7 linked regions of the Homo sapiens genome follow. The protein of the gene in region 1 interacts with the protein of each later gene in a pairwise test. Each region holds a gene or a part of one and is shown in the gene's direction. Other genes may lie near its edges.

Region 1 (3,500 bases):
GGTCAAGGTGCTATGTGAATTCAAACCACAGGGGACATAGGCCTGGGAGGGCAGCCCCATCCTCAGCCCCCCAGACACTTCTGTAGTACCTTGGAGACTTTTGGCTGCAAAGGAATCTCCACATAGGCCTGGAGTGCTTCGAGCCCAGTCCTCATCCAAGTGGGGAACATGTGGATGAGGCTGAGCTGATTCTTACTGGGTGGGGGTGGCGCTGGGGGAGATGAGGAGAAGGGAAAGAGAAGTGCAGAAAGTCCCCGCTGGGGTTTGTACACGCCTGTCCACAGTGAGGAACGGAGTTTGTACGTACCCATCCGCGGTGGGGAGCGGGTTTGTATGTGTCCATCCACGGCGAGGAGCGGGGCTGGGCTACTGAGGGGTGCTACTGGCCCCCATGTCTGCTCCTCTTTGACTGTATGGGGCTCACTGACCCTGGCGACATCAACTGGGGTGTATTCTGGATAACCACGGGACTGTACTTTCCTCATGCCCATCCTCAGCCATCCAAAGAGACAAGGCTGTCCTTGGTTACTCCATTCCAACTCCAAATCTGATCATCAGAACACTTCCTGGACTTGGGAATATAAACAGTTGAATCCAGAAAAAGAAATAATGAGCAAGAGAAAGAAAGAGAGAGAAAGAGAAAGGGAGAGAGAGAGAGAAAGAGAAAGGGAGAGAGAGAGAGAAAAGAAAGAGAGAGAGAGAAAGAGAGAGAAAGAAAGAGAGAAAGAGAAAGAAAGAAAGAGAAAAAAGAAAGAAAGAAAGAAGAAAGAAAGAAAGAAAAAGAAGGAAGGAAGGAGAGGGAGGGAGGGAAGAAGAAATGAAGGAAAGAGAGAGAGAGAAAGAAAGGAAGGGCAGGGCAGGGGACTACTGACAGTGTGGTTAATTTGTTTTGCCAAATAAAGACCAAAAAGATCTGCTGGTCACTACCATTGCATAAAGGAAAGGACATTTTAATATCAAAGCAAGTAGGAGGGCTAGAATATCAGAAGAAATAGCAGCTCTTCTCATGACAATACCAAATGGCATAAATCCTTTCTCAGAATGATGAATTACTTAACTTCCACCTACCTCAGTTTCCTCATCTGGCAAACAGGTCAGCATTGCTCAGAGGGTTACTGTGAGAATCACTGAGTTATTATTTGTAAAGTGCTTAGGATAGTGCCTGGAATGTAGGTCTGATATAAGTGTTTGTTAAATAAAAAAATTAAACCCATATTTAAAAAGTTACTCAGGCCAGGTGCAGTGGCTCACGCCTGTAATCCCAACCCTTTGGGAGGCTGAGGAGGGCAGATCACCTGAGGTCAGGAGTTCAAGACCAGCCTGGCCAACATGGTGAAACCCCGTCTCTACCAAAAATAGAAAAATTAGCTGGGCATGGTGGCATGCACCTGTAATCCCAGCTACTCAGGAAGCTGAGGCATGAGAATCACTTGAACCCAGGAGGCAGAGGTTGCAGTGAGCCACACGCCACTGTACTCACGCCTGGGTGACAGAGCAAGACTCTGTCTCAAGAAAAAAAAGTTTTAAAAAGTTAATCAGGGCAAGCGTGCCGGGGATTGGGATTGAGATCCAGCACAGGGCCCTGGGGGGACTAAAGATGCATTTTTGCAGAGGAAAATGCCTGCCCTGTTCTCTTTGCCTGCTTCCTGTGTTTTTGCACTCCAGTCACCCCATGTGACCGCTGGTCGGGGGCCCTTCCTGGGCTGGGGCTCTCCTCTAGGCCAAAACTCACCCCTCCTCCTCCCCCGCAGATCTTCGGGGGCCTGGTGTGGATCCTGGTGGCCTCCTCCCTGGTGCCCTGGCCCCTGGTCCAGGGCTGGGTGATGTTCGTGTCTGTGTTCTGCTTCGTGGCCACCACCACCTTGATCATCCTGTACATAATTGGAGCCCACGGTGGAGAGACTTCCTGGGTCACCTTGGTGAGTCCAGCCCAGGGTGGCTGCTGGTTGTAGGGGGGCGCAGGAAGTACTGGTCCCTGGCCCAGTAGGATGGGCTTTTCCAGTGCCAGGTGAGACTTCTCCGTAGATGTCACCCCACCATGTTCCAAGGCTGAGCCTGCCCAGGGCTCCTGGCAGCAGAATCAGGAGAGGCAGGGGCAGAGGCAAGGTCGCCGCTGCCAACCCTCACTGGACCTGTTCTGTGTTCTCCTGCATGACTGCCTTTCCATGGATAACCAGCTGCCCAGCCCCCACACCACCTGTACCCGCCAGGTGCCTGCCTGCCCCTCCCATCACCTGCAAGGGCTGTTTTCACCTCAAGGCAGCAGGGCCCCAGAGGCCGACCAAGGTGTTGGGCTCCAGAAATTGGCCCTGGCTCTGAGGGTCAGGCCATGCTTACTGTCCAGCTCCTCAGCCACTGCCTTCCAAGCAGGGCTGCCAGAGAGCACTGGGAAACAGAAGCGGCCTTTGGTCATTATTCTGTATAAATTCTGCTTTGAGACCCATGAAAAGGTAACTTTTACATGTAGGACACTTGCCTGTTACCTGCTGTAGGGGTGGTGGGGCCATTTGGCCAAGGCTGTCACTCTCAAAAGCTCTGCTACTTAGACTTTTGAAATCACTTCCAAATCACAACTACACAAAACCCTGTTTTAGTACCTTTTTGCTTTCATTTATTACTTTATTTTGAGTTGGGGGTCTCATTCTGTCACCCAGGCTGGAGTGCAGTGGCGCAATCTCATCTCACTGCAGCCTCAACCTCCCAGGCTCAAGTGATCGTCCTGCCACAGCCTCCTGAGTAGCTGGGACTACAGGCATGTGCCACCACACCCAGCTAAGATGTATTGTTTTGTGTAGAAATGGGGATCTAACTATGTTTCCCAGGCTGGTCTCAAGTCCTGGCCTCAAGAGATCCTCCTGCACCAATCTCCCAAAGCTCTAGGATTACAGTCATGAGCCACCACGCCCAGCCCTTTTTTGCTTTTAAATATACCAGGGGCCAAAAATAAGCAATGAAACAAAACAAAACAAAACAAAACAAAACGAAAGAAACAGCATGGTCCTCCCTCACCCTGCACTGGTCAGCGAGGCCACACCCAACCTGGACTGTGGCCATGCACGACACTTCTCAGATCCAGGACCAGCTTTTCCCTGGGACACCCCAAGCTGCTGGCCCTTCCTCCACCTCTCCCTTGACCCTTCCTCAGGGGAGACCAGTGTCCCATCCCCAGCAAAGTGCTCACTCTGGCCCCACAGCAGTGAAGTGAGACTCAGCACAGCAGGGCAGGCATGGGACCTCCGTGACAAGGTTGGGAGGGGTGGGATTCAAAGGAAGTGGGGGGAGAGGCAAGGGGCGGGGGTGGAGGGGACCTCAGCTCTGCATCTGGGCCCCGTCTCTCTCTCCCCATCCCTCTGACACCCCGTCTGCCCCATAGGACGCAGCCTACCACTGCACCGCTGCCCTCTTTTACCTCAGCGCCTCAGTCCTGGAGGCCCTGGCCACCATCACGATGCAAGACGGCTTCACCTACAGGCACTACCATGAAAACATTGCTGCCGTGG
Region 2 (3,500 bases), about 120 Mb from region 1:
CCGAGGTAAGAAGCTAACAGCTAAGTGTATATTAGACAGGGAAGATAAGGATACCCAAAGACTGAGATTAAGACCTACGTTAATTGAACCTAATTTAGCTCTGAGTTTCCTGGTGGCCAAAGCAAAGAAAGACATACCACCCGTTACATACGTTACTAATGTAAAAGAGAAACAAACTTTTTCATTAGGAGAGAGACTAGGTGGAGGGGTGGAGAAGGAGGGGGAACTGGGCAGAGGCCAAGCAGGGGAAAGAGAAATATTTCAGACAAATGGGAGAACGTGAGTCCCCACTAAGACAAAAAAACCTTAAGAACACAGCAGAAGCTTCTCATCACCAGATGAGCCTGAATAGTAATTTTTTCCCCACCAAATAAGCACATGACGGTTTTTTTAAAAAGCCTTTCATTGGTCCTGCTGGTGGTTAACGAAAAAAATCCAGTAAGAATACTACAGAATTTCATCCAAGTTTATGGCACGTGTAGCACCGATACTCTGGTAGACCCTGCGAGGAAGAGGGAGGAGAAACTCCGACCTCGAGAGGCTCACAATAGCTGTGTCTGGGTGGAAAAGCTACTAGTGGTCCTGAGCAGTAGATAAGTGACAGGCAGCCAGGGTTCCTGGGACCGCTGGAACTTAGAATTTGAACCGGCCTGGGAGGCCGGGCGGTGGTTGGAGAGACCGAGAAGGTCGCGAGGAGAGCGCGCGCAACGCGGGGACTGGGGCAGCCCGCGGCGCTCAGGCCTGGGCCCCTGCCGGGCAGGTGAACCTGGTGTCGGAGCACATCTGGTGCGAGGACTTTCTGGTGCGGAGCTTCTACCTGAAGAACGTGCAGACCCAGGAGACGCGCACGCTCACGCAGTTCCACTTCCTCAGCTGGCCGGCAGAGGGCACACCGGCCTCCACGCGGCCCCTGCTGGACTTCCGCAGGTGAGCGCGGGCGCCCCCGCCTGGAGGGACCGCATGGGCGGGGGCGGAGCCGGGGTCCGCCCGCCGCTCGGCCTGGAGCCCCGGGTCGGGCCTGGAGCCTCGGCCTCTGACTTCTGGCCGCCCGCTCCAGACCCCACGCTCCCACCCCTAAAAGCAGGCCTGAGGCTCCGGCTGTGCCCTTCCCCGAGCCTCCACCACCCGCGTGGGCCAGCTCCGCGCCGGCCGCTGCTGCTCTGCTCCCTCCCTCTCACGCTCCCGGGACTGGCTCCTTCTCCTCCACCTGCTTCCTCCAGAGGGCCCTCTGCTTTCTGTCTCCCCTCCCTCTCCAGGACCCCTGCTTCCTTTCTCCTTCCAGTTCCCTCCTGCCCCGCTGTCTCCAGGCCCTGCACTGCGCTGCCTTGCTGCCCCCTCCGTCTCTCACTCCCGCCTGCCCGTCTCCCCTCCTTCATCCCTCTCCGTCCCTCCTTCATCCCTCTCCGTCTCTTCGCCTCTTTTTTCTGTGTCTTTCATTCTTTTTCCTTTCCTCTTTCTTCCTCTTCTCTCTCCCCATCTCTCTCTCACTCTGTCTCTGCCTCACCCTTTCCCTCTCTCTCCATTTCTCCCTCTCCGCGCTTCTCTTCCTTTCTCTCTGCCCTCTCCCCTGTTTTTCTCCACCTCCTTCCCCTGTCTGCCAGTTTCTCTCTGCTGCTCTGTCCGTCTCTCCCTCTCCCTCCCGCTGCCTGTCTTTCCTCTCTCTGTCCTTCCCTCTCCCTTCTTCCCTCTTTCTCTCTCTCCCTCACAGCTGCCAGTGTCATTTTTGTGATCTGCAGCTAGTATTCTCACTCCAGTTGCATAGTCACAAAAGTGATCATTGGCAGGTGTGGCTGCTGCATGGACAGACAGGACATGTGGCCCGGGGACCACCCCGAGCTGGGAGCAAGGGGTACAGGGAAGAGGCAAAGACTGTCGAAAGGAGTGTGGGAGGATCTCTGGATTCTGGGGGGCTCAGTGGAGCAGGTGGGGACTAGACAGGGGCTACCTGAGGGACTTACCCTTTTCCAACACTGACACCAAGACAGGTCAGCCCTCCAGCGTCCCCTGCTTTTCCTAGCCCCAGACAGGTACTTGGGAAGCCCACTACCAAGGGCAGGGGCCCACCCACACTGCGCCCTTCTCCTGGTTCTCTGTCCCTTGCCAAGCTGGCCTGATGTCTCTAGGTACTGGACAGAGGAGCAGAGCTGGGGGTGGGGACATGGGTATAGTTTCTGAACCTCAGGACAGCAGTTTCTAACTGGGGTCCCTGAGGCCTGAGACACAGGCGTCTTGAAAGCAGTGCCAGGGTATCAGAGCTATTTCCTTTTTTCCATATTTAAAAAATCCTGGTAGAACTAGTGCATGGATCTGTTTTAAAGCTGCACAGATAAGCTAAAAGATTGCTTTAGGCTGGAATTATGTAAACTCAGTTGGCATTAGACATCCAGAACAAATAAACTGTTGCTTAAGAAATGCAGTTCGGGGCCGGGCGCGGTGGTTCACACCTGTAATCCCAGCACTTTGGGAGGCCGAGGTGGGTGGATCACTTGAGATCAGGAGTTCAAGACCAGACTGGCCAACATGGTCAAACCCTGTTCTGCCAAAAATACAAAAATTAGCCAGGCAGGGTGGCGAGCGCCTGTACTCCCAGCTACTCGGGAGGCTGAGGCAGGAGAATCTCTTAAACCTGGGAGGCAGCAGTTGCAGTGAGACGAGACCGTGCCACTGTACTGCCACTTGGGCAACAGAGCCAGACTCCCTCTCAAAATAAATAAATAAATAAATAAATAAATAAATGCAGTTTGGTCAAGCCCCCCTAGAAGGAAAACAAATTAATAAAAGAGACCCTAAGAAAGTGACCCTGAGTAAGTTCCTTGGCTTCCCTCCATTCCGCTACCTGTGAGATGGGGATGATTACACATACTTTAGAGCAGAGGTTCCCAACCTTTTTGGCACAAGGGACCGGTTTTGTGGAAGACAATTTTTCCACGGCTGGGAGAGGGGGTGGTTTGAGGATGAAACTGTTCCCCCTCAGATCATCAGGCATTAGATTCTCATAAGGAGCTCACAACCTAGATCCCTCACATGTGCAGGTCACGATAGGGTTCGCACTTCTGTGAGAATCTATTGCAATGGCTGATCTAACAGGAGGCGGAGCTCAGGTGGTAATGTTCGCTTGCCTCCTGCTATGCGGCTCGGTTCCCAACAGGCCATAGACTGACACTGGTCCATGGCCCAGGGATTGGGGACCCCTGCTTTAGAGGGCTGTTGCAAGATTTGATAAAGTATGTAAAATCTAGTGTAAGTGCCTGATACATAGCAAGGGCTCCGTTAATTCTAGATGCTGCCTATTATCATTATTAAATGAGCAAAAACAACTATTGTGATTACTCTTCTACCCTAGCCCTCTGACGTAACAGCCAATGAGCTAGAAAACCATGTGGACTCCTATGAAGCCATTCTAAGTCACCTGGTCCTATAGCTGAAGGACTGTGAAGTTCCAAACTTCAATCTGACAACCCCTAAGAAGGTCTTCCCTGGTTCTGGCTTGCAGGGATATC
Region 3 (4,047 bases), on another chromosome or scaffold:
CTATTTTTGCATACAAATGTGACATGATGTACACAAAGTTCTGTGATTTTTGTTCCTTTTATTCAATAACTATTACAGACCTCTCTATATCAGCATCTGTGATCTGTCTCCACCTTTTAAAACAGATTCCTAGTATTCTGTTGAATTTATATAACCATTTTGTACTTAGTCTGTCACATTTTCATGAATATTTGCTGTTTCCAATATTTTGTTAACACCAACAATGCTTCGATGAACATCATTGCATATAGTAATTTGTGCCATGTGTAAGGGGTACATTCATGTATCTTGCAAGGAGAATTCTTGCTCTAAGGGCATATTTATTTTTTATGTTGATGTATATTGCCTACTTGTTTTCCAAATAAGCTGTACAGTTTTCCCAACCGTATATGAGAGTATTTGTTTCCCAGTATTTATCCCTCTTCCCTATATTATCAATTTTTTGAACTTGCCAATCTGATTATAATTCTAAGGTATGTTTATCTAATTATGACTGAGGTTAAGCATCTTAACAATCATTTGTTACATTCTTTCCACATAACCATTTAGCTCTTCATTATACCCTGAAAGATATCCATCTTCTCTCCACTAGTTTCAAATGGAAGCTTAAATAAATTTGTTTATTTGAGTCTAAACTCTCCATTTCTAAACTCTCTACTCTTTTACATTTACCTTATTATTTACACATATCAGTACTAATTTTTGTAAAATGCATAGATTAAGACATCTTAATGTACAATAGGTTAGTGCCTTTTCTTTTTCTCAGAATTTCCCTAGATATTCTTGCTTTATTTTTCAGTGGTAGTGATGGAGTTGTTTCATAAAATAAACATTGAAATATACCTTGTTTAAAAGAGGGGTATTATCACAATAAAACAAGGAAAGCTTTATGCCTAAGTTTGGGTTAGACCTGGAACTGAAAATGGTGTGTAGGAGAACAAAGAGTACCAACAAAGGGAAGAAAATTGAATAAATGTTCCAAATATGAAATACTATTAGAAACCCAGAAGTTCCCTGGAATAAAACATGCACTTGAATGTGGAAAGTTATTAAGTAGCCAGCTAGCTCTGTAGGTCAGCATTTATAACCCCTACTTTTAAAGGCCTTGACAAACAGTGCTAAAGTTCTCACCTTAAACTTAAATTCCTTGGGCTCTTAGTACCTGTAAACATGTACCCAACATTCCTTCCCCTAGCATGCACTTTACGAGTCACAAGGAGCCATTATTAATGCATGTCCTGGTAGGAAGCATAACTTATAGAGAAGCTAGTAAGTTCTGAGAAAGAAGGAAATAAACACAGGCACCAAACCACTATCCTAAGTTGACTGTCCTTTAAATATGTCAAGATCCAGACTTTTCAGTGTCACCTCAGCGATCTCAACGATAGGGATCTTGTGTTTGCCGCTATTCCAGGTAACTATCTCTCTTTCTGGGTTAAGGTTTTCAGAGGTACTCTGAGGTACTCTGAGGACTTGATTTGCTATAGATTTATATGTGAGCAACTTAACTGCTTCTACATTTAAAAGATTTCCTTCAAGCTTTACTAGCATCTTATGATTTCTTGTATTCACTGGTCAGAGGGACAAAACAAAATGTCCAAGGCATTAGTCTTATTTCTCCTTCAATTAGTTCTATTGCTACTGAAATAACGTGATTGCAAATTTAACCTTTGTTTAACTTTGCTATGCTGTAATTTTTTAAATTCAAAATGCTATTGACACAGAACAAAATGCTATGGCTAGATTAATTTAAGACATGTTTACTATTGCCTACAACCATACTTGATGCTTGACAGTTTTTCAATGCTGACTGATGTAGACAGAACCATTTTAGGATTTATTTCAGTTCCTCTGCTCCAGCATCCCCTTCTGACTAACACGTGCATCTCTAGATCTGTGTGACTTCAATGCAAGGTATCTGAAAGATTTAGATCTAAAGTAAATTATAGCTTTCCTTACCTCTTCATAATAACTGGAAGTTTGACAGCTAATGTGTTGGCAGTGAGGTGCTAATAATTTAATACTGTGTACTATTGCTAGGGTACAACACACAGAAAAAACACGGAAGTGACTTGAAAGTGAAATACTGGTTTTATTTGTTTATCTGTTAAGCTGGATCCCAAACGATTTCATCTACTCATAAATAAACTTTCTTTATGGACAAAATGTGAATGTTCATTTTCCTTTCACTTAGTATGCAAATCTATTTGCAGCATTCTAGCAAAAAAGAATGCAACTCATTTTCTGTGCTTATAAATTGTTCATTACCATGCTCTCTGATGGCCAATTCATGGCTCCATCTGCAACTCCACAAATCTCTTTGCCCAGATAAACTTGGTGGAGTAAATACAAGGTGCTGAAGAAGATGCTTTTGGGATTAAGGGGGGAAAAGACACATCTCACACAGAACTCCCAAGTCTATCACTTTAAATTTTGTAACTTCTTACTTGTACTTTTATTTGCGTGTTATAGTCCAGGAAAATAAATACTTCAACTGACTTCATCAACTAAGTGTTCAGAGCTACACATAAATGCCGTTTAAAGACTTTCTCCTTGTACAAGGAAGGAGTCCTGGTTCAAAGGGTCAAGCAAGCAAATAGATAATAAGATCTTTAGAAAGAAGTGCCTTTTTCCTTGTGATTTAGTATATGAGATGTTGTAACCTATGACACTCAGTGCAGATAACTAAGAGCATTATTTTAGAATGCTTATAGTATTGGACTTTTCAAACAAAGCAACAAAGATGATTACTTTTTTTCTCTTCTCTGATAAAGAGAAGACTGTAAATCTCAACTGGAATGTCATGTGATCTTAAATGGACCTTACCCTTAGAGCAGGTTAAAGTCGCCCTTTCATGAATATATATTTAATGCCCATTAATGCTAATAGGCTTGACTTCTGTTTCCATGTATGTACTTGGAACTTGTTTTTTTTTGCGTGAAAATAATACTCACTAATAATGAACCTCTGACCTCTAGCTACAACATGAAAACAAAAAATGCAAAGTGCACAAAAGCTCTTTAGAGCAAGCAAAATCTGCATATAGAAAAAACAAAAATTGTCGTAAAATCCATTTATATTGGTATGTAGAAATGGAATCTGGTTCACAATATATATCTTCTGCCACTGCTGAGCTTAAGAATCCACCCAGAGATTTTTTCAATTAAAATTCTGTGTACCAACAATAAACTCTGCTATAGAGCTTTTAATTAAAAAAGCAAACGAAATGATATAAACCCACATTGTCTCTAGGCGCTGCTTGTATTAAAGGATTAGACTGATGAGATGTTTGGATTTTATTGTTCTAAACATGTGTTTCAGTTGGTGCTCTCGGACCTACCATGCGAAGAAGATGAAATGTAAGTAAACAGCGAAAAACTCCATGTTTTTATTTCGCATTTAAAAAATTCAAAGTATAAAAAAGGCTCAAGCCATTAGAAAAAGCCCAGTTGAGTTTCAAATGATCATTATAATCAGAAGAAAAGTAAATGGTTTGTAAATGCAGATGGCTCCATTTTTTTTTCTGAAAACAGGAAAGATAATTTTCATTACGATCAGCTTTGTTAAATAAATAAGAGGCCTAGTTGATTTCTAGATATTTTTGCACACTGAATTTATCTTCCTTAAGGTTTCAAGGGTACTTTAAGTTCATAAAAGAATCATGATGTCATCTATGGCTTCATCCACACTCAAAAATCACAGTGACCAAGGGAGGCAGTTTTCTGTATAACTCAGTTTAAAATACAAGCAAACTGACCAAAATTCTAACCTGTACTGTGTGTCTATTTCAAAGTGCTTGTGATATGAATTATGTGAACAATTGACTCAATTTTTTCACTTTTTGTGCGATAGACTTAATGGTTCTCAGAATTCTATTCAGGAGATGAAGAGAAGGTGCCATTAATAATGATACTGATAATTAATATCTGTAATTCATTGTGATTTAGTATCAGAAAAGCACTTCCACCCAGCACTATCTTCTCCTGCTTGCAGCCCTTACTGTTAGCAGCTGTTTTCAGTCTTCATTGCCTGTTACACTCAAAGCCA
Region 4 (4,171 bases), on another chromosome or scaffold:
GGGTTTACATCTCATCTCTGCCACTTATAATCAGTGTATCCCTCAACAATTAAATTCCTTAGTCTCCATTTCCTTCCTCCTTCAGGGGAAGTTAATATTCCACAAAGTTAGAAGTTACAGGAGAGGAAAAGTAGTAAACGCCCCAAAATGAGGCAGTTACTTCTATTATATCTTCAAAGGATACATGGCTCAAGGCAGATCAGGTAGTTGGGAGATTTCTTAAAAACAGCATAATAGCTAACATGAACATTTTCATTATTCAGAGAAATTTGACATAGCTTTTTAACGTATGTTTCTGAGAAAAGTTACTAGTTATATTGTCTTCCTCCAAGAATTAGTCTTTGGGTACAGATGAGGCTTGAAAAAATGACATTCCCTCTTAGACTAGGTAGTGTGAAGGGAAAAAAAAAATGACATTCCTCTTCCCCCAAAGCAGAGTGAGGTCCGTATGGGATATAGGTGTAAAGAAAATTTTGGGCCGGGCATGGTGGCTCAAGTTTGTAATCCCAGCACTTTGGGAGGCCGAGGTGGGTGGATCACTTGAGGTCAGGAGTTCAAGACTAGCCTGACCAACATGGTGAAACCCCATCTCTACTAAAAATAAAGAAATTAGCCAGCTATGGTGGCACATACCTGTAATCCCAGCTACTTGGGAGGCTGAGGCAGGAGAATCTGGAAGCAGGAAGGTCTCAGTAGGCTGGGATCATGCCACTGCGCTCCAGCCTGGGCAACACAGCAAGACTCTGTCTCAAAGAAAATTTTGTGGAACACCTATTTTCTCACTGACATGAAAAATGTTTCAAAGATGAATAATGTCCATCAAGCTATGGCAATGGAAGTGAGGATGATAAAGGATTGCACAGTTGTTCACAACCTCACTGTTAGTATCCTGCTGAGATAGTTGGTCTCCTCATCACTGTAGCATCTTTTATGTACAGCAGAGGGCAGAAGCTCCTTGGCATGTATGTGAGGGAACCACATATATGGAAGGCTGTTATTCCTGAGAAAGGAGGATGTGCAGACACTCACAGAACAAAGCCTTTGTAAAGGAAAGGCGGCCGATGAGATGGAGTGCTTCCTTCACCTGTGGTGGGTCTGTATCCATGAAATCGCCCACTCACAATCGCTTTTTGTAGCTACTGGAAGCACTAGGCGTCTGACCTGCCATCATCCTTGTTATGATGTCATAATCATATTCTGTCCGTGTTTATTGCAGTTCTCTGGTTTGTCTGGAGTGTTTGCAAGTCAGTCATCATAGTGGCAGCTTCCGCCTGCTACAGGATATTTATATATGGAAGCATACCATGGCAGGAGTGCTGGAAAGGTGGTGTCAGCTAACAGTTGCTTCAGCCAGATAAGGACGGTAACTTCAGTCCAATAAAAACCTCATCAGTTACCAACTAAATCAGGGCATGGTGTTTTTTTGTTGTTTTCTTTTTAAAGCATAGTTTTAGTAATATATTTACTAAAAACCTTAGACATTATGAAAAAAGTCAGGATTTGGAATCTTACACTGCTTGGCTAAATTGACACAATATAGACCAACAGTTTCATCCTGGGGCTTATGGGTCTCATAGGAGCACCCGTATGCTGAAGAAAGGCAAAGAGAGAACTACAGAATTTGTAGAAAAGTTTTGTTGTAGTTGCTTCTGAACAATTAGTTTTTGTTTGTTTGTTTTGTTTTGTTTTGTTTTTCTGGTAACCTAGCAGTCAAAGCTCACATTTTTGTAAGTAATTTGCATGCTATTACTCTACTGAGACTGAATTATGATTCTCGAGTCTGGGAAGTTTTTGTTGCATGTGCTCTGTGTTTTTCATTTTTGATAGAAATGATTTAGACTTGATTTTAAAAATTACTTCCTGAATGTGAAGAGGCATTGACTGGGAAATGAAATTAAAGAACAAATTACCATGACTCATTCAATAACACTGCTTATTAGCTTTGAATTATGCCCTATTATAACAATTCTGATTTTGTGGCAAGCAATACTGGTGTGAGTTATTTCTGTGGTTTGATACCAAGCACCTGCCTGGTTAAAAAATAAAGCACCAGGCAATTTTTCATAGACAATTATCTTTATTTGTTGGAATATTTATTTGTAAATAGTCAAAGAATTCTTAAATGACAAAAAATCAACTGTTAGCAGTGATCTAAACCAGAGGAAAATGAAATTACTTACATGTTTCCAGTCAAGGTATAAGAAAGGGTTCTGTTAAAGGGATGCTGCTTTAGCCAATCTTGGTGAATAAGCAAATTTGCACACTGGAGTTGAAAGGAGGGTCAAGTTAGTGTGATGAAGAATTGCTAGTAACACTGGCTTCTCCAGCCTTGCTGGTTGTTCCTAGATGCCCTCATTTGGAGATGCCAAAGATAGCAACTACTGGGTGTCAAACAGCCGTGGGGCCTGGTTTTAAGGCCATGTGATCTTGTATCCCTTTACTAGCAGCCTCATGAGTCATTTGCAAGTCATTTGCAGGCTCTTGGAGCCCTGGAACAGCACCCAACTCAGTTTTCTCTGCTAGTTCTTTATTTTTCCATTTGCGTGTTGCAGCTCATTAAAAAAATATTGGAATAGCATATATTTACATTGTGACTTCACTCTAAAGAAGACATTTTCTTTCAAAGCACGTCATGGCTCACTAGGTTGTTGTCTTAGTTTTTTTTGGAGTCACCTTTTGAGTAGATAGCAAGACCAGTAATATGGAGATTTTATTAGCTGTACTCTTAAAGTCAGTTTTTGTGGCCATGATTTTCTAGCTAGGTCTCTATTTTGTAAACATTGATTAAGCCTCAGTATGAAATTGAAGCAACAGCAGATACATTCCTGAAGGGGAAGCTAAGGCTCAAGGCTATTAAGTCAGAGATCCAAAAATGAACCATGCTTCAGTTACCACACCTAAAATAGAAGCTGTGTGCAGAACAGTGGTCCTGTGATGTGACACATAAAACTTTTTTTCCTGGTCACATATTACTGTTTGGTCAAATATTAGTATAAATGGATGATAAAATATGAAACACATCTAAAAGAATTGTTTTAAAATCTGTGACTATGCATGAGTGAATATTTTGGGGCCTTGGTTTTAACTGCAAAAGGATAAGATTTGACTGACCTCTAAGGCCCTTTTACTCTATTTGCTGCTGCTTTTTAATTTTTTTTAATTGTCATATCAAGTCATTTCCTTAGGAATGCTCTATGAAGTATATTTGGAATTCAGTAATGTCAATAAAGTGCTATGGTAGTATCTTATCTGAAAACTCAGGGAATTGTTTGTTCTTGTTAATTAAAATTTCAAGATAAGTGAAACACACTTTTTTAGTTTTAACCCTAAAAAAAATTTTTAGTCCATGACTTTTTGAGCTCACTTTCTTAGCTAGGGTTCTGGTAGCACATTTTTCACAAGTACCAGTAGTTTTAGGTATTACTGGGAAATTGTTTTTTTAATATTTTAGACTAAGTTTAAATTGCTCAGTAAGTGTCTGATACTTTTTTTCCCCACATCTTCTTTAGGTGTATACTTTTTTTTTTTTTTTATGAATTTGGTTTCTCCCAACTCTATATTGCTCTTCATTCTGTAGATGAGTTTTAAAGGAAATTTTTGCAACAACAGAAAGTAAACAGTGTGTTGTCAAATACACACAGGCACCATATTTATCGCATTGACTTTACTAGAGTCCAGATAGACATCACATGAGGATTTTTATCCTCAATCTTATTTCTGTTCATGTACTTATTATTAACTGCCTCCAATTCTTTTGAAAATGGTGAGATTTAAATCCTAAATAAACATTTCAGGTGTTCCATCTTAACATAAGTCACCAACTTCTAAACCTGGCACTGGGCATTTGAAGAATAGGATTCGTCCCTACTCTAAGGAGTTTTCAGTCTATCGGGAAATCAAAGATGTAAGCAAATAGATGCAATAAAATACTACAGATGTTCTGATAGAAGAATGTAAAGAATCCAGCAAAGGCAAAAGGAAAGACAGGTTGGTTCTCTCTTCCTAGGGGAAGTGATGTTTGAGCTGAGTCTTGAGGCAGGATTAGGAAGGGATATAGAAAAGAAAAGTAGCACAAAGCAAGACTCATTGAATGCTGAACAAAAGGCCCGATTCCAGCTCTGCTGCCAGGCAAATGTGTGATCCTGGGCATTTACCTCGCCGAGCTTCCATT
Region 5 (3,374 bases), on another chromosome or scaffold:
CCTAAGTGGTAAAAGAATCTCAGCTGAGTATGGGGGTGCATACCTGTAGTCCCAGCTACTTGGAAGGCTGAGGTGGAAGGATTGCTTGAGCCCAGGAGGCCAAGGCTGCAATGAGCCCAGATTGCACCACTGCACTCCAGCCTCGGTGAAAGAGAGAGACCCTGTCTAAAAAAAAAAAAAAATAAAGGAATCTCAAAGACCAGGCAGCATGCATTAAGAAATTCTAGAACAGACACTCCTAAAATCACAAAATGAAATGTGCAAGGCGCTTGTGACAGCGTCAGCAACACCGAAGGCTAGACTGCCAGTATGCTGAGTGGCGGCCATGCCCTTGATGGTTCACTTAATACATGTGTACTGTGTGCTAGACTCCAGTCCAGGTGCTAACGGTGGAAAGTTGAATCTGACAAGAGCCCATGACGGGCTCCCTGTCTAGTGGAAGGGAGGAAAAGAGCCATGATTAAGAAAAAGTTGCCACTAAGGTGTGATGAGTGAATTAATGCATACTGTCTAGTTACTATAAACTGAGACCTCATCCTCTACAGTGGGGTCAACCAGGTGAGTGGGTCTTGGCATGGGGCTGATAGAATCTGCAAGACTTGCAAAGCTGCCCTTAGGCAGAGTTGGGGTGTGATGCCCCAGCTTTTGTGTGTATCAGCATCACAGAGAGAAAGACATTCTTAAAAATCCAGATGGGGTTGGGAGTGGTGGCTCACACCTGTAATTTCAGCACTTTGGGAGGCCGGGGTGGTTGGATCGCCTGAGGTCAGGAGTTCGAGACCAGCCTGGCCAACATGGTGAAACCCCGTCTCTACTAAAAATACAAAAAAATCAGCTGAGTGTGGTGGTGCACACCTGTAATCCCAGCTACTGAGATTTACTGAGGCAGGAGAATTGCTTGAACCAAGGAGGCAGAGGTTGCAGTGAGCTGAGATCGAGATACTGCACTTCAGCCTGGGCAACAGAGCAAGACTCCCTCTCAAAAAAAAAAAAAAAATTCCAGATGGCTGGGCTCCATCTCCAGAGTTCCTGATTCAGTGGGTCTGGGATGGGGCCCAAGAATTTGTAGTTCCAGCAGGCTCTAGATGATGCTAATGCTGCTTGTCCAGAGACCACACTTGGAGAACCACCATGCTGGAAGGTTCTGATCGACGCAAGGTGCCATGAAGAAAGGACCCCCCTACAGAAGCCCCCACAACTGCCATCAGGACCAGGCTCTGCTGCAAGGCCAAGAGTGCCACTCACTTCCTGTATTCTCTAAAGACCTTTTCCTGCTGCTTTTAAAATTTATTTAGTTAGTGAGTTAGTAGTTTAGAGTTATTTATCTATCTCTATTTATTTTTCACATAGAGTGAAATGGATGAGAATCAAATCCAGATGGCTGGAGATGATGTGGATTTACCTGAAGATCTCCGGAAAATGGTAGATGAAGATCAAGAAGAGGAAGAAGATAAAGATTCTATTCTTGGGCAGATACAGAATCTCCAGAACATGGACTTGGATACCATAAAAGAAAAAGCCCAGGCCACCTTCACTGAAATCAAGCAGACAGCGGAGCAGAAGTGTTCCGTGATGTGAGGGGTGGGAGGGGTGGAGGGAGGGAACCAGCCATCCTTGGAAAAGACCACTCTCTTGTGGGACGTTTCAAGCAGTACATGTTTTAATGTAGTGAACACAGTTAGGAAAACCACGATGATCCATTGACAGACAATAATTTGGTTGTTCTAAATATTCCTGGCAGAGCATTTAGCTAACACCTTGCAGCGGGAACCTTACTTTCCTTTTAGTTATAAATGAGATAAACTGGAAAATTTCAGTTGTAAATGATGATGCAGAACACATATCTGCTTAAAGACCTTGAGATGAGCCAGGAAGAAACAAAAGCAAGGGGCATTTCCTCTCCAACTTTCTTCCTTGGAGGCCAAGTTCTCACCCTGTCCAACTATTCGCAGGACACCAGGTCCCTTCAGAGAGAAATGTGGAGAGTCAAGGTGTCTACTGGGAGCCGGGTTTCCCACAGGGAGCTGAGTCTACAGACTCCAGGGCAATCAAAGGTCACCACCCCCACCCCTCACCTCTAGGATCCTTGAATTTGTCAATGATACTCATCAAGTATGCTTGGATCCTTTGGTCCTTGGATGCTTCTCAGCCAAGTGGCGGTAGCACAGATGTGGTGAACAATGACGAATTGAGGCAGGGAATAGACCTCACTAGCCCTTTGCAATGGAGATCATCGTTCTAGTGGCCATGTGAAGAATGGAACCAAGGGAGGCACAATTAGAGGCAGAGGGAAACCAGGCAGACGGCTGCTCTTTTTGAGTTGAGCTTAACTCTCCTTGTCTGAACTTGGTGATAGCAATGGGAACAAAGTGGGTAGACTAACAGAGAGCATTAAGAAGTTAAATCAATCTCTCTCTGTCTCCTCCCAACCTCTCTCTCTCTTTCATCCCCTTCTCTCCCTATCTCTCTTTTTTTTTTCTTCTCCTGTCCCTTCCCATCCCACCCCTTTAGACTACCTTCCAGTAAATCACACTGTCATTTGGTGCCACAAGCTTTCAGGGTAGACACTGATTTTTCCCCCCTAATATCTGCTCTCTTTCAAAAGGAATAATTCAAAAGACTTAGGACAATTACCACTGAAACACTTCGAGCTATTTAGCTAAAGCCCACCAAACCAAAACAAAATACTGATTTTTTTTTTTTTTTTTGGTGACTCTGTTCATACAGTGAATAAAGATCTATCAAAGGAAAAGGAAACTGAGACCGAAAACTTAGGGTCTAAGTTGTTCTAAACCCAGGGTTCTCAAATGTGTTGTACAAAAAGTTTCATGTAATAAAATTAAGCAAATAAAACAAATGAATAGAGGTCCAAAACCTATGGTCCTTGGCAAAGTTTAATCTGTCTTGGAAATTCCTGGGAGAACATTGGTGCAATGATTGAGGCTGATTAGCCTTCTAGTCCACAAACCCAGATGCCATGGGCACATTTTAAAACTGTGCTTGTCTTTTATCAGAAATGGCATGTGAGTTGTGATTTGTTTTATAGCAGAAACTTTAAAAAACTCACTTTTTTAAAAACTACAATATAATAGATAACATTTATTTTCAGTTTAATGCCTGACTCTGCCCTGTAGTTGGTGAGGTGGGTAGTATGGATGGGTGAGAGGTGCTGTATGTGGCCTGATATCTGTACACTTTGTATGACATAAAATACTACAGCTGCCAAATTGTTCCACACTCTAGCCTCAGGATGACAAAGAAGATGTGCTTTCTTGTAAAAGATGCAGCCAGTTCTGCTAAGGAAATCACTAAATTGGCACTTCCTCTTGACTGCCAACATTACTCCAATGCAATTTGGTCGTTGTCTCAATGAA
Region 6 (3,500 bases), on another chromosome or scaffold:
AATAATTTCTGAACAAGGGGTTCTGTATTTTCATTTTGCACTGGGTTCTGCAAATTATCTAGCAAGTCCTGAGAGCAGGCAAAGGTAACCTACAGGGCCTGGTACTCTTCAGAGCAAATGCACAATCTGGCCACTGTGTGTATGTCTAAAGGCTAAGCCACACCTGCCATGCACTACTTTAGCTGCAAGGCCTTTGCTTACACAAGGATTTCTGCAATCTGAAATCTCATACCTGACCCAATTAATTCTAAATGTCTTTATATCAAACTATCACAGGCTTTTCTGGAAGACTCACCCAATCATTCTCACCACTGTGAGTGTATGCTTTGGGGCCTGGGCCAGGAGGAGATTTGTTTTCAAAGGTCATCCATGGGCCGAGGGCAGTGGCTCACGCCTACAATCCCAGCACTTTGGGAGTCCAAGGCGGGTGGATCATGAGGTCAGGAGTTCGAGACCAGCCTGACCAACATGGTGAAACCTGGTCTCTACTAAAAATACAAAAATTAGCCAGACATGGTAGCAGGCGCCTGTAATCCCAGCTACTCAGGAGGCTGAGGCAGGAGAATCACTTGAACCTGGGAGGCGGAGGTTGCAGTGAGCTGAGATCGCACCACCGCGCTCCGGCCTGGGTGACAAAGTGAGACTCTGACTCAAAAAAAAAAAAAAATAGTCATCCATTAAAATATAAATGCCTGTGGGGTAACTTCTTGGCCAAGATTAACAATGAGGGAGGCTCAGTGCCCACAGTGGGCTGGGGTCCCAGGAAGAGGACCCAGGTTGTAAGAACAGGCTTCCGTGGGGCTCTGGGAAGGTAAGAGCCAGAAGGCAGCAAGATAAATAAAGAACCACCCCCCCAACCACTTTTTCTAGATGGCAGAAGGCAAGGGTGCAGGGCCACAGGAGGGAAGGTAAGATTGTAGCTGGAGAAGAGGATTTCAAGCGAAGGGAGTGGGAGAGCCTAGCCTTATGGGTAGGTGAGACAATATTCCAGGGACAGGCCAGAGACACCTGTCTCCATCTCAGGAGATCCCAAAGAGAGCCTGCACTCAGCAGGCAGGCCCAGCAGAACAGACATCTGAACTATGACTCTCTGTTAAACCGTTTTGGACTCTTTAAAGCTCCTAATAGGACCTTTAAAAGTTACATCAGGCCAGGTACGGTGGTGGCTCATGCCTGTAATCCCAGCACTTTGGGATGCCGAGGAGGGCAGATCATTTGAAGTCGGGAGTTTGAGACCAGCCTAGACGGAGTGAAACCCCGTCTCTACTAAAAATACAAAAATTAGCTGGGTGTGGTGGCGTGCACCTGTAATCCTACTGTGCTCCAGCCTGGGTGACAGAGCAAGACTCTGTCTCAAAAAAATAAAATAAAATAAAATAAAAAAAGTTAAATCAATGAAGCCAGCGGGGCTGGGTGCAGTGGCTCACACCTGAAGTTCCAGCTACTCGGAAGGCTGAGGCGGGAGGATCACTTGAGCTCAGGAGGTCAAGGCCGCAGGGAGCCGTGATTGTGCCACTGCACTCCAGCCTGGCCAACAGAGTGAAAAATAATTTTTAATGAAATAAATAAGCCATTGGTTCTCAAACCTGCCTGCACATCAGAATCACCGGGTGGGGGAGAGGAGCTCGAAAATTCCCATGCATGGACCCCACCCCAGTCAGCGAATCAGAATCTCTGGAGGTAGCCAGGGCATCCGGATCTTTTTAAAGCTCTCCAAGGGCTGCGGCTACAGCAGGAGGGTGGAGAGCCACTGATCCAGGTGACTTCTCCACGATGAACAGACCTTCTCTATTGTCCTCAATGTCCCTCCATCCCAGCTTTGACGCCACGGCCCGCCATGATGTTCACACCTTTGTGTGCACGCATATTTCCCTTGGCTGTCTGCCTTCATCATTTTCCCCTAGGAAAATCCCCACCAGGTCCAGTCCAGCCCTTTGTCCACTTGGGACCCTCGCAGTGCAGTTGATGGTGCTGGGAAAGGCTGTCCGGCGTGATAGTCTATGGTACCCGCAGGACCACTTGCCCCACCTGCACCCGGCACTGACTAGCACTTGACCCCTTGACTTGGTCCAGGCCTGCGGTCATTCTCCTGGATGACCATGGTCTCCTCCTCTGTGCTCAAGCCTCCCGCACCTCCTCCCCCATCTCCTGTCTCAAGACATCATGTTGCTTCTTATTTCCCTGAGAAACTTGGAGCAAACTCAGAACATGCGTTATTGCCCACTGACATCTCCCCCAGCCTCCTGCTCCCGCCTCCCCTCCCGTTCTGGAGTGAGTTCTCTGCATGCTGGTCAGAGCTGGTCTCTCCATGTGCACACAGGATCCCTACTGCCCCTACAGATGTTTCCCTCCTCGCTGAACCATTTCCTCAGGCATGCAAACATGCTTCCATGCCTCTCATCTTCAAAACAACAGCAAAACAAGGGTCCTCTCTTGCCTACACATCCCACTGGCAGAGGTTTCTAACTCTTTTGGTTTAGTTTTTTGTTATCGGTGTTGTTCTGGGTGGCGGGATGGGGATTGCCTGGGATTCCTTTGGCAATCTGGCGAAGCTGATGTATTCTTCTCAGCACAATACTTTTAAATGTGTAATATAACACATAACATGCAGGATTATAAAGGAAGTGAATTATAGTAAAACATAGTTATCAAAATATTTTAGTGCAATTCTGTTCCTAGTAATGGACGACCTTCCTTATTAATGCATTACATCATGAGGTCTAGCAAGCATCTTATAAGTATCATTTGAAATTGTTAGAGTGATAAATGTCCTTTGCAGGTATCTGCAACGCCTGTAATGCGATGCAAAATATCATGGTCTCTATTGCTGATTAAGGCACAGGCACTGGTCATATTGCTGTAGGTGGCTGCCTACATTCAGGATTGAAGGAAATGCTAATTGTCAGTGAGAGGTAGATGAAATAGAAGATGTCACTTTTTTTCCTGGCTGAGTTGACAGATATCCTGAGGTCTATGGGCCCTGGAACCCATCCTAAAACTGTTGCCTCATTTCCTGATTCCCCTGGAGGGTCCAAGTTCCTGAAAGAATTCTCTGGGCTCATTCCCTCCTGTCCCTCTGTCCCTATTCTCTCTTGAACCCACTCCAATCAACTCCGCCGAAACTGAGCTTATCAAGGTCTCCAATTTCCTTCATGTTGCTAATCCAGTGACCACTTCTCAGTGCTCAGATGACTTGATTTATCAGATTACTTGACTTGACAGAGTAGATTGCTCTCTCCAACATGGAGCTCTGTCCTCCCTCACCAGTCTCCTCTGGGTTGACCGTTCACTATCGCCCATTCCTACAGCCCGTGGCTGGCTCCTCTTCCTACCTCTATCCTCATCCCTCCCCTGATGTTGGAGGGTTCCTAGAATCAGCCCTGGAGCCCCTGCTCCTCTCTATCTAACGTTCCCTCCTAAGAGACTCCATCCCATATTTTAATCCCATCTCCATGCGGTGGTGACACAAACAGACTTCTCCAGTTCAGTCCCTCCCTGAA
Region 7 (3,500 bases), on another chromosome or scaffold:
GGTAAATTAACTGAATGTGCAATATGATCTCAAATATTATAAGAAACACACACAGAAAAAAATGGAAGGAATATGCCGATATATTAATGCCTCTGGATGAGTTTATGAATGATTTTTTCTTTTTTATATCCCTGTACTTGACATATTTTCTACAATAAGCATGTTTTATTTTACTATATTTTGTTTTATTTTGAGATGGGGGTCTCCCTATGTTTCTCAGGCTGACCTTGAACTCTTGGGCTCAAGCAATCCTCCAATATCAGCCTCCTGAGTAGCTGGGACTACAGGTGCACCCCACTGCACCCAGCTGCGTGTGTTATTTTGATATCGATGGAAAAAATAAATAAAATGTTTAAGCCAAGGAAAACAAAAACTAGGTTGAAAAAGAAGGCCAAAAGGGCACACAAGTCCAGAGTGAAAGACAGACACCCCAGCAGTCACCCTCAGAGCAGAGGGAGAATATTGAAAGTATTACCACTGATCTGATCTGGCACTGACTATAAACTTGCAGATTGGCTCTCTGGCTCTCCTTCCATCATCAGTTGGCCAGAATATATTGTCGCTAATGCAAGACAAAAAGAGATGATGAATCACAGAGACCTAGAAGTTTCCAAAACCACAGAAGAAAAATGTAAAATGCTAAAAACATAAGGCCAGGCGCGGTGGCTCAAGCCTGTAATCCCAGCATTTTGGGAGGCCGAGGCAGGTGTCATGGTGTGCGGCTGTAGTCCAAGCTACTCAGGAGGCTGAGGCAAGAGAATTGCTTGAAACTGGGAGGTAGCGATTGCAGTGAGCCAAGATTGCGCTACTGTACCGAAGCCTGGATGACAGAGCGAGACTCTGTCTCAAAAATAAATAAATAAATAAATAAATAAATAAAACATGAACTGCTGTGGAAGAACCAGAGAGCCCTAAGGCCTCCTGTAAATGACTACAGCAGGAGAGTTTCCCTGGTCAGCATGCAGCTTTCGAAAATTGAGTTTGGCTTGATGCCTTCATCACAAATTTGGTCCCCTGTAGCCTTGACTATGAAGCTTATCATAAAATAATTGGGTTTCACTGGGGCCCGAACAAAAGCATCTTGGGAATTTAACAAGATTAAAGGTTGCTTTGTTGCTGTGGGTATGATTTTTTTTTCTTTTTTCTTTTTTTTTTTTTTTGAGACGGAGTCTGACTCTGTCACCCAGGCTGGAGTGCAGTGGCACGATCTCGGCTCACTGCAACCTCCGCCTCCTGGGTTCAAGCAATTCTCCTGCCTCAGCCTCCTGAGTAACTGGGATTACAGGTGCGCGCCACCACGCCAGGCTAATTTTTGTATTTTTAGTAGAGACAGGGTTTCTCCATGTTGGTCAGGCTGGCTGCTCTCAAACTCCTGACCTTGCCATCCAGCCGCCTCAGCCTCCCAAAGTGCTGGGATTACAGGCATGAGCTACCACACGTGGCCATATGTAAATTTTAAACATGTAAACCAATACTGTATATCTTTTATAGATATTTACATCTGTAATGATAATATGAAAACGTACCTAGGAATGATAAACACCAAATTCAAGATATTGGTAATCTCTAAGGAGGGAGAAGACTAAGATTTTGGAGTACATAAAGGGGTCTTGATTATATAGATAGTATTTCAGTTCTTAACACGTTCTCTTCTGGTCCCAAGGCCAAGGAATTCTCAATTGAAATCTCAGTTAGAACGTGAAGGATGCTTCTTGGGACTGGGAAGAGATTTTCCGTAGGCCAAATTTAACCTCCCACTAGAGATAGTTGATAATTCTACCACATTTCATAGTGAAGCATCAGGAAGACAGGACTGAAAAGGCAAGAAGGAATGATGCAAATTGCATAGTCCAAAAGATAAGCTGGACCTAGGTTTGCCAGTTTGTCTAAGTAACTGAGAATTCATTCTGAGATCAAAAAATCAAAATAATGTTCACAGCAGCATTGTTTATCACTGAAAGCAAACAACCTAAATGTCCATCAACAGGAGAATGAATAAATATATTGGAATGTATTCATCATATAGAATATTTTATGCATATAAAAATGAATTAAAACATATGAAGTAGAACTAGCCAGATAAATAAATCCTAACATATTATATTGAGGGGAAAAAAGCAAGTTGCTGGAGAATGTGTACCATATATATATATATAAATTTTCTTTTTTTTTTTTTTTTTTTTTCGCGACCGAGTTTCACTCTTGTTGCCCAGGCTGGAGTGCAATGGCAAGATCTCGGCTCACTGCAACCTCTGCCTCCCGGGTTCAAGGGATTCTCCCGCCTCAGCCTCCTGAGTAGCTGGGAGAGTAGCGTTGGCCCAGCTAGTTTTTGTATTTTTAGTAGAGACAGGGTTTCTCCATGTTGGTCAGGCTGGCTGCTCTCAAACTCCTGACCTTGTCATCCACCCGCCTCAGCCTCCCAAAGTGCTGGGATTACAGGCCTGAGTTACCGCACCTGGCCATATGTAAATTTTAAACATGTAAACCAATACTATATATCTTTTATAGATACTTACATCTGTAATAATAATATGAAAACATACCTAGGAATGATAAACACCAAACTCAAGATATTGGTAATCTCTATGGAGGGAGAAGACTAAGATTTTGGAGTACATAAAGGGGTCTTGATTATATAGATTGTATCTCACTTCTTAACACGTGAGGCAATATGGCACAATTTTAGGATTTTGTAGAGCTAAGCGGTGAGTCCAAGATTGTAATGTTATAGTCCCTGTACTTTCTATTTGAAATATTTCATAATATAAAACAAAGTATATTTGAGGCCAGGTGCAGCAGCTCATGCCTGTAATCCCCACACTTTGGAAGGCTGAGACAAGAAGATCACTTGCATCCAGGAGTTTGAGACTAGCCTAGGCAACAAAGTGAGACCCGTGTCTCTACAAAAAAATTAAAAATTAGCTGGGTGTGGTAGTGCACACCTGTAGTCCCAGCTACTTGAGAGGCTGAGGCAGGAGGATCGCTTGAGCCCAGGAGGTGGAGGCTGCAGTGAGTGGTGATCTTGCTACTGCACTCCATCCTGGGTGACAGAGTGAGACCCTGTCTCAAAAAAATAGAAGGTATATTTGATCAAAGTTTTATATTCACAGTAAGCAATAAGAACCCTAGGGACAGAGAAGGGTGGATGTTCCACCTAAACACTGTGCTTTCATTCCATCAACAATGAAACATCCAGGAAAGGAAACAACAAGTGACTCTAGAAATTCACTAGTTAGACAGAATCTCCTTGGGAATGATTTAAAGAGGGAAAATGTAAGAAAACCTGGCAAGACTAAGAAGAGTCCTCAAGTGCAAAAAAAGTATAGTTGACAGTTACCAGAGACAGATCATCCTTACCAGCCTGGAGGAATATTGCAGAGGAAAGAGCTTAGGATCTTGAATACTCTCTTATCTCCTGTATTTACCACCATTTCCTCTCTTGCTGAACATTCCTAGAAAATGGAGAGGAGTTTGTCACAACTGCTCTTTGATGATAGCCA

The links.
Region 2: the proteins of MAL (region 1) and PTPRN interact in binary tests that used the Homo sapiens proteins (3 or more experiments, as listed by UniProt).
Region 3: the proteins of MAL (region 1) and TMEM207 interact in binary tests that used the Homo sapiens proteins (3 or more experiments, as listed by UniProt).
Region 4: the proteins of MAL (region 1) and LSMEM1 interact in binary tests that used the Homo sapiens proteins (3 or more experiments, as listed by UniProt).
Region 5: the proteins of MAL (region 1) and CPLX4 interact in binary tests that used the Homo sapiens proteins (3 or more experiments, as listed by UniProt).
Region 6: the proteins of MAL (region 1) and CLDN14 interact in binary tests that used the Homo sapiens proteins (3 or more experiments, as listed by UniProt).
Region 7: the proteins of MAL (region 1) and BTK interact in binary tests that used the Homo sapiens proteins (3 or more experiments, as listed by UniProt).

The regions. Positions count from the first base shown.
Region 1 is NC_000002.12:95,046,208-95,049,707, forward strand, and holds part of MAL (myelin and lymphocyte protein), read left to right. Parts: intron 1-307; exon of another isoform or gene 308-571; intron 572-1,068; exon of another isoform or gene 1,069-1,751; coding exon 1,752-1,919; intron 1,920-3,373; coding exon 3,374-3,499; intron 3,500-3,500. UniProt on the Homo sapiens protein: May be involved in vesicular trafficking from the Golgi apparatus to the cell membrane. Plays a role in the maintenance of the myelin sheath, and in axon-glia and glia-glia interactions.
Region 2 is NC_000002.12:219,292,402-219,295,901, reverse strand, and holds part of PTPRN (receptor-type tyrosine-protein phosphatase-like N isoform 1 precursor), read left to right. Parts: intron 1-760; coding exon 761-927; intron 928-1,701; exon of another isoform or gene 1,702-1,791; intron 1,792-3,500. UniProt on the Homo sapiens protein: Plays a role in vesicle-mediated secretory processes. Required for normal accumulation of secretory vesicles in hippocampus, pituitary and pancreatic islets.
Region 3 is NC_000003.12:190,447,102-190,451,148, reverse strand, and holds the start of TMEM207 (transmembrane protein 207 precursor), read left to right. Parts: upstream 1-1,247; 5' UTR 1,248-1,339; coding exon 1,340-1,414; intron 1,415-3,321; coding exon 3,322-3,359; intron 3,360-4,047.
Region 4 is NC_000007.14:112,479,620-112,483,790, forward strand, and holds the start of LSMEM1 (leucine-rich single-pass membrane protein 1), read left to right. Parts: upstream 1-1,371; 5' UTR 1,372-1,727; exon of another isoform or gene 1,728-4,171.
Region 5 is NC_000018.10:59,294,902-59,298,275, reverse strand, and holds the end of CPLX4 (complexin-4), read left to right. Parts: intron 1-1,350; coding exon 1,351-1,578; 3' UTR 1,579-2,874; downstream 2,875-3,374.
Region 6 is NC_000021.9:36,473,623-36,477,122, reverse strand, and holds part of CLDN14 (claudin-14), read left to right. Parts: intron 1-3,500.
Region 7 is NC_000023.11:101,379,692-101,383,191, reverse strand, and holds part of BTK (tyrosine-protein kinase BTK), read left to right. Parts: intron 1-3,500. UniProt on the Homo sapiens protein: Non-receptor tyrosine kinase indispensable for B lymphocyte development, differentiation and signaling. Binding of antigen to the B-cell antigen receptor (BCR) triggers signaling that ultimately leads to B-cell activation.